Linked DNA regions of Homo sapiens: region 1 is linked to region 2. The links come from fine-mapping of genetic effects on gene expression. A gene starts in region 2. The other region holds a variant in brackets. All regions are shown on one strand. Distances are from middle to middle.

What was found. PIP is the estimated chance that this variant, and not a neighbour inherited with it, causes the effect.
Region 1: its variant is fine-mapped to the expression of B3GALT6 in whole blood (TOPMed, PIP 0.98).

Annotation. Positions count from the first base shown.
Region 1 is chr1:1,390,372-1,398,689 of GRCh38, forward strand. CCNL2 (cyclin L2) reads right to left here. Exons shown (of 11, transcript NM_030937.6): 2 at 8,226-8,300; 3 at 7,862-7,971; 4 at 5,023-5,143; 5 at 3,025-3,089; 6 at 395-494; 7 at 88-192. Among named protein-coding and RNA genes, the nearest start is that of CCNL2, 4.8 kb to the right of the region's middle. RefSeq lists an enhancer at 2,591-3,091. The variant G/A (reference allele first, on the strand shown) is at 4,675.
Region 2 is chr1:1,228,298-1,236,615 of GRCh38, forward strand. B3GALT6 (beta-1,3-galactosyltransferase 6) reads left to right here and starts at 3,940. Exons shown (of 1, transcript NM_080605.4): 1 at 3,940-6,744. The coding sequence starts at 3,982. The coding sequence ends at 4,971. It overlaps SDF4 (stromal cell derived factor 4), which reads right to left and starts at 3,704. Exons shown (of 7, transcript NM_016176.6): 1 at 3,595-3,704; 2 at 171-649. The coding sequence starts at 475. RefSeq lists a silencer at 3,182-4,041 and enhancers at 3,658-4,339, 4,340-5,021, 5,806-6,307.

The sequences.
Region 1 (8,318 bases), 160 kb after region 2:
CTGCAAAAGCCAGAAGGTGTCCGTTCAGAACCAGGTGTTTCTGGCCAAACACAAACGCATACGTTACATGAAAAAATGCCGAAGAACCTTTTTCCGAGCATAAAGCTGCAAGATCTTTAAGCAGATTTCCTGAATTTCTTCTTCAGTTGCTCCAAACAAAAGAAACCAATGGGGACGATTGGGCAAAGGGATCTGTAAAAACAAACACTATCATCATTACACTTTCCTCAACTTCACGGCCAGCAAGACTCAGGACAATTAAAAAACAGCCTGTTGGTCACGAAAATGCTTTGGCCCAGATTAGAGTAATTTGAAGAATAACACAGTAAAGTTTACTGGAGGCTGGAGAAAAAAAAATCAGACTAGAATCTCTCCATAGTAGCAACACACTGACCTCCAGCGTCCGGGCAGCAAGATAAATGCAGGCACAGGCGATGCTCTCTGGCTGGAACCGCACGAAGACGTCGGTGCGAAGGCTGTCGTTCATGTAATTCCTGGAAGCCAAACACAGGAAGAACTGCAATGCCCCACCCGGGAACCCAGGTCTTCCGCCTGCATTATCTAGAGAAAATCTAGATAAACGTACTACTCCTCTAAGGAGTCTATTGCTAGGACTCAGAGCTAGACAGTCCTGTGAATCTCAAGAGTTAATGGAGAAATATTCTAGCTGCTTTTTCTAAATACAGTAAATACAGGACAGAAAGGCACAGAAATTATTAGAAAAAAAAAAAGCTGGCTGAATGTCAGACAATACGTGTTGCTATGAAAGAGAACCGACTTTAACTTTACTTTTCCCCTCAACCTTGGCCTGCTCTCATGCAAAGCACGATGCCTCAGAAAGAAAATGTCTACTGGAGTCACTAAAACGCTTTTGATTAAAGAAATCTAAATGCTCAAAATCCATAGTGCAGAGAAACATGCAAACTCAAATGAACTGGCTGAGCACAAAGCCGGTGTGGCTGCTGGGAGACAAGCCATCCTCTTGGGTTCCTCTTCCTCTTCCTCCAGGGCGCTGGCGGCAGGCCCCTTCTCTGCTGACCGAGCTGCAGCTTCCTTGAAGGAGTCCACTTGGAAGAGGGAAAAGCCCCTTGGGTGCAAGTTGGACGCGTGGGAGCATCGTGCGGAGGGAGACTCCGCACCCAAGGGCAGGCCTCTTCTCGGGCTCATCAGAGCCGCTGCCAACTGTCCCATTTCAACAAGGGGTCTTAAAATGAACATTCATAGAATCAGAAGCAACACAATACTGAGAAGCAACATGATACTGAGAAGCAACATAATACTGAACATTTCATCACAGTACATTCTTTAACTTTCATATTTAGAAGCTATAAACATACAAAAATTTACATTTTTTAAAAGTTAAAGCATTTAAAACCTGGCTACATTTTGAGCATTTCCTTTAGATCTCTAAGATTTAATAGACTAAAACCAGACCTTACACTAGCTTTATGAATACTGCAAAAACAGAAAGGGTGATTCCATGAGGACAGTTGAACTGGTTTTATATTTACTGCTCCTCACATACCCCAATAACGGGGAGCCTTGGAGTGGGGCTGCACCCGCAGACGAGGTGGGTTGTGAGGGAATCTGACCCATGACCTTCCAGCAATATCTCTGTCCTAAATAAACCTTGGAGAAGGTAACATACAAACCCACTCAAGAGATTTCTAAATGGGAAGTCCTACAGGTGCCTCTTGGAGACACCCGGCTCTGGAAGCAGCTCCAGGCATCACGGGGGAATCTGTGTGGCGGCCGTGTGGCCCCAGCCCCTGATGCAAGCGTGCCAGTGCACAGCTCTAACACAGATACATTCAACAATCAGTAACCTTTCGGTGTCTAATCAACAACTGTCAGTATTCAAGTAGTGATATTAATCCACGAACTTAAAATTCTTAAAAACAAATGAAATCTTGAGAACATATAAACTTATTGCTGTATTTGAAGTGATACAATATTTTTCAAAGTATCCATGAAATAATTTAAAGATGCACACCTTTTACCAGAGCGTGTCATGCAAAGCTGCTCAAAAGAGCAACTTCAGGGCTTCTAGAAATCATGACATAACCCCACACTGACACAGCCAATTTGTCTCTTCAATTCTCACAGCTTTCCATAGCATTTTTTTTTAAGAGAAAGGTACTGCATCTTTATCATACAGGTACAGCAGTTTTAAAGGGACAAAATTCAAGTCAAGACAGTTACCAACTCTAATCAATACGATTACCAAAGCACGACAGAGGATTAACAAGAAGCACAATCGTCAGAGAACCACAGCAGGAGTCGGCCATGGCTATGCTATGTGCGTACCACCAGTCTAGAGCCAGCCTTCGGTGGAGAGCCTGCACTGGATTGGCTGAAGATGCCGCTGTCCCTGCACCAAAGCGCTTGGACAGCAGAGGAGAAGTCTTAGTCACTTACCCTCAGAGGCTACCCTTTGATTGAAAGAGTACAGAAAAGAAAAGTCAAAATAGGTTCTCTATTAAACATGTCATAGCACCAGACAATTCAGTCAGCAAAAATATGACCCTTACAGACTTAACTCCATGGGAAAAAATTCACCAGAATCCCCAGAATCCCCCAAATACTACATTGCACTTTAGGGTTCCTTTCTAGCACATGCATTGCTAAAATCGGCCCCAGAACCTTCTCTGCCCCTCTCCCATGGGATGCAATGTCAGTGGAGAAACAGACCAAGTCTGCACTAGCCTGTCCCTCCACCCTCCCCAGGAAAAGGTCCCCCTGCGCCAAGTCAACAGCTCCCAGAGGAAGCCCACTGACTGCTCTCTTCAGGGTGGGGGACACAGGAAGTCCAGGCTTGCAGGGAGGGGACGGGCCACCTACCGTGACTGCCAGTGCCCATTTTGGGAGTCTGATTGGAATTTATACAGCAGGAGCACTGGGCACTCGGACAACTCCAGCCCACAACCAAGTCACTGGGCTGCCTACCCACTGCCCAAGTGCCTCAAGTCAACACATTCCTGCACTGCCCTTGCTGGTCTCATAAAACAAGGAAGCTCAACTCACCATGAGGTCTGGACCAGGTGTTGGTTACGCTCACACTCTAACACCTGAAGGTACATAACGATTATCTGGAAGATACGGGTCAGGCAGTTATTACCAAGAACCTTAAGAGCCCAGAATTCAGATCTTGTGGGTGTCCATGCAGCAAACAAGAGCCTCAAGCTAGATCCCAGGAGTGGCTCCTGGCCACACGTCTGGCGGACGGCTCAGCTGGAGGGAGCTTTGCGATTGCACCTGCTGTCTGCCTTGGCAGCCAGGCAGGACGCATGCCCGTGAGCCCAGCCACACAACCCACGGCACAGGCCTCGTTCTTCATGGGGCTGGTTTCATTCTAGTCTTCAATGCCTTTCCACCAGTGAGGTTGGCCTGTCCTACACGTCTCTGTATCCCAGTTAACAACTCACCAAAACACAATATGAACATACTTTCAGCAAACAGAGAAGAACACTTCAGGCCAGGCACACTGGCTCATGCCTATAATCCCAGCACTTTGGGAGGCTGAGGCGGGCAGATCACCTGAGGTCAGGAGTTCGAGAACAGCCTGACCAATATGGAGAAACCCAGTCTCTACTAAAAATACAAAATTAGTCAGGCATGGTGGTGCACGCCTGTAATCCCAGGTACTCAGGAGGCTGAGGCAGGAGAATCGCTTGAAACCAGGAGGCGGAGGCTGCATGAGCTGAGGTTGCGCCATTGCACTCCAGCCTGGACAACAGAGCGAGATTCCGTCTCCAAAAAAAAAAAAAAAGCACTTCAATCTGTGGTGGGCAATTTGTGGATAATTTGAACAGATGGCAGAAAGCCGAACAAGCAGATGAGGAAACCCACCAATAAAAAGGAGATGGAACCAAAGATGGAAACAATTTTTTGGGAAAACAAGTGCTTTGTTTCCATGTGACACAGAAGGCACCCACAACGCTGGGAGTGAGGGACCGTGTCACGGCCATGGTCCTCAGTCAGTACATGCCGCAAAACTCGCCAGTCATTTCAGACTAAAGGGGCCAGAATTCCCCTAATTTCTCCATAAGAGAAAGTAAAGCTATCACTAAAGCAAATGTAGAAAATTAACTGTTGAGGCTGGGTGCAGTGGCTCACACTTGTAATCCCAGAACTTTGGGAGGCCGAGGCAGGTGCATCACCTGAGATCAGGAGTTTGAGACCAGCCCGGCCAACATGACGAAACCCCATCTCTACTAAAGATACAAAAATTACCCAGGTGTGGTGGCGCATGCCTGTAATCCCAGCTACTTGGGAGGCTGAGGCACAAGAATCACTTGAACCTGGGAGGCAGAGGTTGCAGTGAGCCAAGATTGCACCACTGCACTCCAGCCTGCATGACAGAGTAAGACTCCGTCTCAAGAAAAAAAAAAAAAAAAAAAAAAAAGGCCAGGCACAGTGGCTTATGCCTGTAATCCCAGCACTTTGGGAGGCCAAGGTGGGAGGATCACGAGGGCAAGAGATGAAGACCATTCTGGCCAACATGGTGAAACCCCGTCTCTACTAAAAATACAAAAATCAGCTCGGCGTGGTGGCACGTGCCTGTAGTGCCAGCTACTCAGGAGGCTGAGGCAGGAGAATGGCTTGAAGCCGGGAGGTGGAGGTTGTGCCTCCACTGCCACTGCCACCATGCCACTGCACTCCAGCCTGGCGATA[G/A]AGCGAAACTCCATCTCAAAAAAAAAGAAAACAAAAAAAAATTAACTGTAGAGAAAGGAAAACATAAACTAAAATTCAACATTTATAAACTCACCACTATTTTTGAAAGCCCAAACTTAAATAATACCATTTCCAAAACACTTAAAAATGTGTTACTAAAATAAACAGCTGACACTAGAAGACGAATACGTCAGGAACTATTCTTGAGATTATAAATAGAAACTGGAAAGCCAAGTCAGGGATGCACTCAGTCCTCTTCAGAGCCTTCAACTGCACTGAGGTGGAGAGAGGCGGCCAGGCAGGAGCAGCGGCCTAGGCGGGCTCGCAGGGCAGGAGCCGCACACCCACCTTATGAGGATGCTTCACATGGACGCAGAAACCCAACTCTTTGAGAACTCGTCTTTCCGCCTTTATAATTTGGTTCTTTAAATTAACATAATCTTGATCCAGTAGTAGAGGCACGGGCTTCCTGCCAGAGAGAGAGCACAGGGTCTGCACCACAGTCAAGCAGAGCAAGGCTTCTGAGATCCCGTCGTTACCTCCAACTATGAGCACCTAACACAAACCCCACAACACAACATCGCTATGAAGTCCACATCCTCTGATGAACAAAACTGCACACCGCTCCCCACAGCCCAGTGCCAACCTCCTCATCCCTTCCCAACGATCCCTCCCTGCTTTTCCTTATAGATCAACAGCTTCTGGTGCACAAGCATAGACCGAACATAGCAAGTTTTAGGATCTCGTGGCACAAATGCTAAAGCACTTTATGTGACTCACGATAGGAAGGTACATATTCACAGTTCAATAACCACAGAACCAATGAAAGCACAATTATTTAAATACAGATGGGCCAGGTGCAGTGGCTCTGCCTGTAATCCCAGCACTTTGGGAGGCGAGGCAGGCAGACTGCCTGAGCTCAGGAGTTCAAGACCAGTCTGACCAACATGGTGAAACCCTGTCTCTACTAAAAAAATGCAAAAATTAGCCGGGCGTGGTGGCGGGTGCTTGTAATCCCAGCTACTCAGGAGGCTGAGGCAGGAGATTCACTTGAACCCAGGAGGCGGAGGTTTCAGTGAGCCGAGATCGCATCACTGCACTCCAGCCTGGGTGACACGGTGAGACACAGTGAGAGTCCGTCTCAGAAAAAAAAAAAAAAAAAAAGGGCTGGGTGCAGTGGCTCACACCTGTAACCCCAGCACTTTGGGAGGCCGATGAGGCCATGTTTTTTCTTTTTTTGAGATGGAGTCTCACTCTGTTGCCCAGGCTGGAGTGCAGTGGCGCGCTCTTGGCTCACTATAACCTCCACCTCCCAGGTTCAAGCAATTCTCCTGCCTCAGCCTCCCAAGTAGCTGGTATTACAGGCATGCACCACCACGACCAGCTAATTTTATATTTGTAGTAGAGATGGGGTTTCTACATGTTGGTCAGGCTGGTCTCGAACTCCCGACCTCAGATGATCCACCCGCCTTGGCCTCCCAAAGTGCTGGGACTATAGGCGTGAGCCACTGCGCTCGGCAAGGCTGTTTTTTTTTTTTTTTTTTTTTTTTTTGAGACAGAGTTTCACTTTTGTTGCCCAGGCTGGAGTGCAATGGCACAATCTCAGCTCACTGCACCTCTAACTCCCCGGTTCCAGCGATTCTCCTGCCTCACCCTCCCGAATAGCTGGGATTACAGGCACCCGCAACCACACCCGGCTAATTTTTTTTTTATTTTTTTTTGAGACGGAGTCTTGCTCTGTCGCCCAGGCTGGAGTGCAGTGGCCCGATCTCAGCTCACTGCAAGCTCCACCTCCCGGGTTCACGCCATTCTCCTGCCTCAGCCTCCCAAGTAGCTGGGACCACAGGCACCCGCCACCACGCCTGGCTAACTTTTTTGTATTTTTAGTAGACGGGGTTTCACCGTGTTAGCCAGGATGGTCTCGATCTCCTGACCTCGTGATCCACCCGCCTCGGCCTCCCAAAGTGCTGGGATTACAGGCGTGAGCCACTGCACCTGGCCAATTTTTGTGTTCTTAATAGGGACAGGGTTTCACCATATTGGTTAGGCTGGTCTCGAACTCCTGACCTTAGGTGATCCACCTGCCTAGGCCTCCCAACGTGCTGGGATTACAGGCCAGCCCGGCCAGAGGCTGTGTTTTCTAAAGGACTTCAATTAACTTCAGGTGCATAAACCCTGGGCTAAGGTCAGAGGCAGCGGTTCTCTGCTGGAGAAATTTTACTATTCCAGGGCCATGAAGCAACATCAACAGACTTTCGTTTTTTTTGGAAACAGGGCCTCACCCTGTTGTCCAGGCTGGAGTGCAGTGGTGACATCACAGCTCACTGCAGCCTCAATCTCCTGGCCTCAAGCAAACCTCCTTTTTCAGTCTCCCAAGTGCTGAGATGACAGGTGTGAGCTCCCACATCTGGTATGAGAGAATTTCTGGCTGTCACATCTAAGGTGGGGTACTCCTGTCATCCAGTGAGTCGAGACCAGGGATGTTGCTGAATCCTGCAGCACACAGGAGAATCCCCTACAACTAAAGATTACCCAGCCAGATGCGGTGGCTGAAATCTGTAATCCCAGTGCTTTGGGAGGCTAAGGCCAGCAAATCCTTGGAGCCCAGGAATTTGAGACCAGCCTGGGCAACACAGCATGACCCCATCTTTACCAAATAAAAAATAAAAATTAGCTGGCATGGTTGGCGTGCTCCTATAGTCCCAGCTACTCAGGAGGCTGAGGCAGGAGAAACTCTTGAGCCTAGGAGGTTGAGGCTGTAGTGAGCCATGATCATACCACCGCACTCTGCCCTGGACAACAGGAAACCTGTCTCAGGAGGAAAAAAAAGATTATCCAGCCTGAATGTCAATAGTGCTGAGATTAAGATTCCCTGCTCCAGAGCACTCAGAAACTTGTGGGACAGAAGCAGCAGCAGGGCCGTGCACTGACATGGGTAAAGCAGGAAGCCAGCCCCAGCGCGACCCGCCACAGCGCACTGTCCTCACTGGAGCCCCTGCCCTTACTAAACCGCATCTACTGATGCCTCTGAGCAGGCTCTGTTGGTGGAGCTTGAGACTGCGCTCATGAATATCCCACAGGTTTAGAGCCTCAGGCCTGTATTGTGTTATACAAGCCTTACTGTAACTTAATCAGAAATAAAGAAAATAGGCATCTATGATAGACTAGACAGCTCTGACTGACTCACTTTTTGTCTCTCAGCTGTCGAAGGCGGTGAAACACATTGATGACGTCCCGTATGCGTCTTGGGGCCTCTTCTATCTTGGAAGCCAGGTGGACACAGGCCATTGACACATGCTGAAGCGGAAGCATTGCAACACGCCCATGTTTGTCCCCAGCCACGGCGTCCTGACGGCCGCCAAAGGCTTGAGGGCTATTCAGACCAAAAGGGAGGTGCACCCAGGGGAAAAAAAAAGTCAAGAAACAGAACCCTCCGGCACAGAGCTCAGACTGGGGGGCAAGTACTCACTCCCTTAGTAACCGGGCAAAGTAACAAACCGTTTTACCCTCAACATACTTCGCTGGGAATGAAGTGCAGGAGGAAGCCTTACCTCCATGGAGTGCTTCACGAAGGACTTGGTATAAAAGAACCGCTGGAACAACACCTGCCCGGTAGCCATGGCCACCTAGAGTAGAAGAAAGTT
Region 2 (8,318 bases):
CTCCGCGCAAACACAGCAGGCTGGAAGTGGCGCTCATCACCGGCACGTCTTCCCAGCCCGGCAGGTCCCGACACAGGGCCCGGCGCCCCCCACCGCGCAAAGCCAGGATAGGAACACACAGGCGAGCGCACGCGGACAGCCCCCCAGTCTGGGCACATGGCGGCACCTACTTGGAAAAGATGACCATCAGCTTCCTCCGGCTCCGCCGCGGCTCCGCGTCCTCATCAAAGCCACCCAGGTCCTTGCCTAGGAAGACCTCCTGGTGGAAGCCGCGATTGAGGTGCCCGTCCATCTCCAGCTTCACCCCGTTCAGGTGGTCTGGGGGCAGGATCTCATTCTCCTCCCTGTTGGCTACTCTCTCTCGAGTGGACGAGTGGTTGGCAGGCCGTGCAGACGCGTCCATCAGAAGGACTGCCCCCAGGAGCCAGAGGCAGCACGGAGCCAGGCCAATGAGGGGACCCCACCTGGACGCCATCGCCACCCAGGGCCAGACCATGGGGCGGGCTGCAGGGTGTGGGCCAGGTGCTGGGAGGGGCAGGGGCAGGGGCAGAGGAGGAAGTGAGGTCCTGGCTCCAATCCAATCCCCGGGCACCACGGAGGGCTCTGTGTCCCCAGGACGGCCGCAGGATGGGGACAAGCAGCTCACAGTCTGCAGAGAGACACAGACACATCATTAGCAAGACTCAGCAAAGACTTCCCCAAGCACGTCTATCCTGCAACATGAAACATATCCTCGATTCACAGGATCCAGACATGTGGCATCGCCTTCTCCAGACCACACGTGGCACTGCCTTCTCCAGACCACACGTGGCATTGTTTTCTCCGGGCCACACGTGGCATTTGTTTTCTCTGGACCACACGTGGCATTTGTTTTCTCCGGACCACACGTGGTGTTTTTTTCTTTATTTTTAGAAACAGGGTCTTGCTCTGTCACCCAGGCTGGAGTACAGCGGTGACCACAGCTCACCGTGACCACGAACTCCTGGGCTCAGGTGATGCTCTGGGCTCAGGTGATGCTCTCGCCTCAGCCACCGGAGCAGCTGCGACCACAGGCGTGCACCCCCACGCCCAGTAATTTATTTTTATTTTACTCTTTGTAGAGACGGGTCTCGCTGTATTGCTCAGGCTGGTCTCAAACTCCTGGCTTCAAGCGATCCTCTTGCCTCAGTCTCCCAACGTGCTGGGATTACAGGCGTGAGCCACTGTGCCCGGTCTTTTTTTTACAGACACTGAGTTTTCAGCCCTGTCTCTCCGTCTTTCCATCTCTCTCTCGAGCTGTCAGCACCTCCAGGGGCTAACCTGTCCCCATCGCCCAACACCTGCAGCACAGCTTTCCTGTGGGGCCCGGCTCTGTCCCTCCTGGCATCATGCCACTGACCCATGGGGTTAGGGTCACTCTCCAGACCCTGACTTGAACATTCTTGAGATCTATGACCTTAGCTAAGTCATGTGGCCTCCCCGGCCTCAGCTTCTCACTAAGAAACAGGAGGCTCCCCCTCTCCCCCCGACTGACCAGGCTTTGCGAAGACAGCCAACCCTAAGTGCAGAGGGCGTCAGGGCCTGGTCCCAGCAAACAAACACACAACCCCCACACACAGATGTGCACACACACATCCACACTCACGCATGCACGTATTACACACATGTGCCCTTGCCCACACTCGCGAGCGAACGCCAAGGCCGAGGAGCCCAGAAGTCTGTCCTGCCGTCCGAGGCGTGGCCAGTCCTGGTGGGAAGCAGGGGCTCACAGGGCCTCATGCCTCATGTATCCCAAAGGGAACTCGGGGTCCTTCTCACCCACGAGCCTACTCCTTTCACAGTCTGCCCCTCCGGCAAACACCTGCGGGTCCTTTCGGGTGCCGCTGAGGCCCCGCCATGTCACAGCTGTTCCCTCAACACACATGGACTGAGACTCCTGTTCTGTGGCCGTCTTATTCAGCTTCACTGTTCTGGCACCTGCCACTCTGCCTGCACACAGTAGGCGCTCAACGAATGCTACCCTGGGTAATATTAAACGAAAAAATGCTGCCTCCAGGTATCGAGAAACACCAGTGGGGCCGCCATGAAAGTGGTCCTGAAGTCAGTGCAGTCTGCCACAAACCAAGAGGGGTACAAGCCTGAGTTCCCCCAAGGAAGGAAACCCTGGGTGAGGGGCTCATGTCTGATTTTTTTTTTTTTTCTGAGACAGAGTCTCACTCTGTCGCCCAGGCTGGAGTGCAGTGGTGCAGTCTCGGCTCACTGCAACCTCCACCTCCCAGGTTCAAGTGATTCTCCTGCCTCGGCCTCCCAGTTAGCTGGGATTACAGGCACCCACCTCCACTCTCCACTAATCTGTATTTTTAGTAGAGATGGGGTTTTGCCATGTTGGCCAGGCTGGTCTCTAACTCCTGACCTGAAGTGATCCTCCTGCCTCGGCCTCCCAAAGTGCTGGGACTATAGGCGTGAGCCATGCACCCGGCCTGATTTTCTGAACATGGCTGAGGGCTTTTCCCTTCCCTAGTGGTGGCATAATTCTATTCCTGTCGTCCCAGATCGCCTGACCAGGGGAGAGTCCTGGATAAGAACCAAGACACCTCCTCCTGGTGCTGACTCCACTAACTACAGTCGTAAAACACACGCTGTGTGCAAAGAGACTGTACTTTGTTCCTAGAGAAAATAAAGCTAGTTCTTGATTCTACATATCTTGATGAGTTACACGGTTTACTTGAGGCAGGAGGATCGTGAGACCAGCCTGGGCAACACAGTGAGACTGCGTCTCTTTAAAAAACAAAAACAAAAAGATAAGACCCTGTCTCGAAAAAGGGGGAATAAAAAGTAACCCAAAAGTAACTATAAATATCAGGAGTCCATCAAGTGGCGCTTCCTCTCCTGGCTTCAGAGTATCTATTCATCACGGTGTGCCAGGTTCGCAGCACAGCGGAGCGGGCCGGTCCCACCGGAATGGGGTTTCGACTTCGCCATCCCCTAGCAGCTCAGTTCCCAGCAAGGAATCAACACACCCTTGCAAAACGGACGTGGGAAACAGCTTAGGCAGAGACGCTATTTCTTTGCCATCCCTGGGCTTCAGCTCTGGTGGAACGAGGCTATTTCTGGCAGTTAACAACACACACGGTTAGATTCTAAAAGCTCAACAGGGTTCATAACACCGCCTCTGAGCCAGACATCAAGGGCTCCACACAGCCGACTTCACATCTCCAAATCCTACTAACTGGGGATGAGGGTCCACGCGGTTCAGAAGCGGAAGCGCAGGCGCAGGGAAGCGGGGCAGCTTGTCCAAGGTCGCCTCGCCGATAAACGCGAGTCCAACCAGACCCCTTGGGCCTCCGTTTCCCGGTGGCATTCGTAGGTTTTGGCCAGTAGGAGACCAGACGTGCCGGCGGCCGGGGAGGCCAGCGTCGTCGGCCTGTCCCTGCCCCCGGGAACCCCGGGAGCCCCGGTGGCGGCGGAGTCTCGCCAGGGCTCAAGGCCGAGCGGACGGACGATGCCCCAGCCCAAGGCGGGAGGCGGCGGCGGCCTCCAGACCCGCCCTCGCCGTCCGGCCGGCGTACACTTGGCCCCGCGGCCTGCAGCGGCCGTCCCGGGCCCCTCACTCACCGGTCTGCCTCCCCGCGCTCGGGATCCGAGGACCGGAGCGAAGCGTCAGTGACGCCGCCAACGGGCCCGGATCAGGCCACTGCCATCTTTCTTGCGGGCGGGGGCGGTGCGAACGGGCGCGACCTCACGGAGGGGACGCCGGCGCCACCATCTCTCCTCCGGGCGGAAGCGGTCGCGGGGCCGCTCCGAGGTTGACCAATGACAAGGGTGCCCGAGGCCACGTGACGGCCGCCGATTGGCCGCCGGCCTCCGAGCGCCCCGGGGCTCGGCGTCTGCGGAAGGCCCCGGCGCGCTCCCAGGAGCGCCGTGCGCACGCGCACCGCCCCGAGCCGGCGGCGCCTGCGCACTCGCGAGTCCGGCCTGGGCCGCCGGCCCGGCGCGGGCGCCATGAAGCTGCTGCGGCGGGCGTGGCGGCGGCGGGCGGCGCTAGGCCTGGGCACGCTGGCGCTGTGCGGGGCGGCGCTGCTCTACCTGGCGCGCTGCGCGGCCGAGCCCGGGGACCCCAGGGCGATGTCGGGCCGCAGCCCGCCTCCCCCCGCGCCCGCGCGCGCCGCCGCCTTCCTGGCAGTGCTGGTGGCCAGCGCGCCCCGCGCCGCCGAGCGCCGCAGCGTGATCCGCAGCACGTGGCTTGCGCGGCGCGGGGCCCCGGGCGACGTGTGGGCGCGCTTTGCCGTGGGCACGGCCGGCCTGGGCGCCGAGGAGCGGCGCGCCCTGGAGCGGGAGCAGGCGCGGCACGGGGACCTGCTGCTGCTGCCCGCGCTGCGCGACGCCTACGAAAACCTCACGGCCAAGGTGCTGGCCATGCTGGCCTGGCTGGACGAGCACGTGGCCTTCGAGTTCGTGCTCAAGGCGGACGACGACTCCTTCGCGCGGCTGGACGCGCTGCTGGCCGAGCTGCGCGCCCGCGAGCCCGCGCGCCGCCGCCGCCTCTACTGGGGCTTCTTCTCGGGCCGCGGCCGCGTCAAGCCGGGGGGGCGCTGGCGCGAGGCCGCCTGGCAACTCTGCGACTACTACCTGCCCTACGCGCTGGGCGGCGGCTACGTGCTCTCGGCCGACCTGGTGCACTACCTGCGCCTCAGCCGCGACTACCTGCGCGCCTGGCACAGCGAGGACGTGTCTCTGGGCGCCTGGCTGGCGCCGGTGGACGTCCAGCGGGAGCACGACCCGCGCTTCGACACCGAATACCGGTCCCGCGGCTGCAGCAACCAGTACCTGGTGACGCACAAGCAGAGCCTGGAGGACATGCTGGAGAAGCACGCGACGCTGGCGCGCGAGGGCCGCCTGTGCAAGCGCGAGGTGCAGCTGCGCCTGTCCTACGTGTACGACTGGTCCGCGCCGCCCTCGCAGTGCTGCCAGAGAAGGGAGGGCATCCCCTGAGCCGCCGCGGCCCGGCCCTCCGGGACACCTGCTTCACCCGGCGGCGCCTTGGGGCAGGTGCCGAGCGGGCGCACTACGCCCGGGCCCCAAGGCCCCCGTCCCGCAGCCACGCTTGTGGTCGCTGCGTCCCGGTCTGCGTTTGGGAGACCCCTGGGGGTTGCCGGGGCAGCGCGCCGTGTCCAGGTGGAGGTGCCCGTTCCTGGACCTCAGCGAGCCTGAGCCGGGCCCGGCCGCACGCTGACCCCCGTGCTGTCCCCGACCGGCTCACGGGGCTGGGCTCCGATCTTCCGTGTCTCTTATCAGTGGCGTTTCTCACGTCTGCGTCTCAGATCTAACGTGGTTTCACATCAATCCGCTTTCATGGGATTTTGGTCTCTGTCCAGTGACTTCGTGGTAAATGTAACTCAGTGTTTGCTTGCGACTTATTTATAAATATTGTAAGTTTGTGTCGATGAGTGTAAGTTGGCAGTGCGCACGTCTCGGTTTTTTTACATGATTTAAGGAAAGACTTTTATGTCAGAACTTGGTGCCTGTACCGTCAACCCCGCTGCTGCCCGTGTTTAAACGCAGGAGAACTTTAAAACTGGCCATCTATCTTTTCAGTGTACAAGTCACTGAACCCATTGTTTCTTTCTGAAGAGACTTTCCTTTCAAGGCTTCCCATGGGTCCGCGCCACACAGGGCCGGTGCTGCTTTATTTCAGACTCTGCCCCAGGTTCCAGGAATCCGAACCCCGGAGTGCTGACGCGGTTCCCCAACTTCCGCCTTAAGAAAACAGGACCAGCCGGCACCAGGCCCGTCTCTCACGTACTTTAACACATCCTTGAAAGCCCCTCGTTTAATGAGAAAAGCGAACACTGCGGTCCTTGCCAAAGTAAAATGAAGCTGCCCCAGGACAAGGGGTTACCATGAGCTCCCTGGAGTCCGACGCGGGTTTTCTCTCTGGGGGACCTGGGTGGTCCCCGCTGTGGTCTTTGTTGTCCCACTTTGGGACCGGGTCCAGTCTGGGGTCTAGTCTCGAGCATCAGGGTCAGGCTCGGGGCAGGGCTGGGTTAGGCTCCGGGTCAGTCTTGCCATGGGTTTGGGAGCAGGTTTGGGTTACTTGCGTTTGAAGGCAGCAGTGGTCTCAGGAGGAAGAAACGGGGGCGGGAGAGAGTGGTGATCTGTGGTCAGTGGGTCAGTGACCTGCACGGTGATTCTCCCACCTCCAAAAGGTAGGGGTGGGACTGGAGGCGTCCCTAGGTCAGGCCGTTGAGTTCGAGCTCCGATGGGCCACCTTGAATCCAGGACTGACCGCCCGTGTGTGCACAGTTTGTTCTTGGACGAGGACTCGTGAGGATCGAGGGCTGGGGACCCCGGTGTGAGCAGGATGGGGCCCTGCCCTCCCGTGGGAGTTGTGGACTCGAGCCCAGGGGCTGCCCGTCACAGCGGTGTCCCAGGTCCCTGCCATCCGATTTTACCTGGGATGTCTTCTCTGGAGTTTGGAATTGCTTGAGGAACCCTGCGTGTGCTTGGAGAGGCCAGAGGGCTTGCTGAGAACCCCATGGACAGTGGAGAGCGGGATTCGAACCAAGGGCTGGACTCCCACACCTCTGGCCTGCGTCGCCCAGTTCTTTGTGGCTCTGAAGAATTGGCCGCTGTGGAAAAGAGCAAATGTCCGAGACCCCCAACAGGAAGAGTCTAAAAATCCAGTTTGCAACCACTTCTGACCTACAAAAAAATGGAAATTTAGTGTTTTTCAGCCTAAGACATTAAATTTCATATCAGAACAAAGCCTGCCCCAGGCTGACCCTCCCCAGCCGTACCGTGGTGAACGGGTTCAGAGGATACGTGGGCTGAAGGCTGGGCCTCGGGAGGGCTGGGGGCTTCCAGAGCCGGGGCAGCTGCAGCTCTCTCTGGTCTCACCTGGAACTTGCCCTGTAGATCCTCCCTGCCCTGCGGCTCCAATCGACCGTGCACGGGCCGTGGCATCCGTCCCCCAGGCGTCCTTCCCTGGTCTTAGCTTGTACAGCTCCCCACCCACCCAGGTACTCGGTTCCCGGAGACCAGGGCCAAACCAGGAGGCCCTCGGGAGATGGGGGGTCACCGAATTCATTTCCATGTGGGAACTTGGGATACAAAACAGCCAACTCTTCCTCAGCCACACGGATGTTTCTCCTCTAGTGGCCCCGAGAACCTACCATGGAGGGGACAGTGTCAGGGCTGGACGGGCACGGCGCAGCCACACGCACACAGCCCCCAGGAGGCACAGGGCCGGCAGGGAATGCAGGTCAAGCCAAGAGGATGGGCTCTGGTCCCTTCAGGATCCCCCAGGAGGAGAGCACCCCCTTCTGCCCTCTTCCTGGGGACTATGGTCCTGCCTCTCTGCCCCCTGAGGCTGGCATGCAGGCACCTGACGTTGGCTCCAGCTCTCTGGGCCAGCCCTGGGTACCCGCCGGGCCTGTGGCCTGGTTGGTCACCCCCAAGATGCAAAGTGCTACCTGCATCCGGAGGCACCCCCGCCCCTGAGGCCTCCAGGTTCCCACCTGCCCACCTGTGTCTGGCTGGGATCCTGGCTGTCAAGGCTCCTGTTACGGGACTGAACTGTGCCCCCTAAAAGATATTCCAAGCCCTAACCCAGCAGCTACAAACTGACCTTGTCTGGAAGTCGGGTCTCTGCAGGTGGAATTGCGTTAAGGCAAGGTCCTGAGGTGGCCTTACTCCCACGGAACTGGTGTCCTTACCAGAAAAGACCTGGGAAAAAGCCACTGTGTGGCTAGAGACTGACACCCAGGCGATGCCTCTGCAGGCCAAGGATTGAGGACCCTCCACCCCCACCCCACCAGGCAAGGAAGGGCTCTACCCAGAGTCAGGAGCGTGGCCTCCAGGGCTGCGAGGGAAGACGCCCCGTCCAGCAGCCCCAGGATGCCAGCCCAGTTCCCTGTGCCCGGCGCTCTTCGGTGCAGACGCAGGCAGGGGCTCCTGCAACCTTGTGGCATCACAGACGCCCAGCACTGACTGGGCCCAGATCTCCTCCCCGCAGGGCTCAGCACACACCCTGTTCCCGGCAGGCCTCCATCAGTCCAGCCTGCAGCAGGGCTGCCCCCGCGGCCTGGGTCACCCCAGACTCTTCCACCCTCTCCCTGGCTGACTGTCCCAGCTCAGAGTCCTCAGGTCTAAGGGGGTCACGGCCCTCCTGTGGCCCCACCGGCCCCAGGCTCCCCAGCTGTGGCACTGTGAGACCAGCTGACGTTGCAGGAATGGAAGCCCCAGCGGCCCAGACGGCTTGGGGAGTCCTCGGGAGCAGGTGGCCAGAGACAGGTGCGTGCCAGGCCCTCCGCACCCAGAGCGGGGCCGGGAGGAGAGAG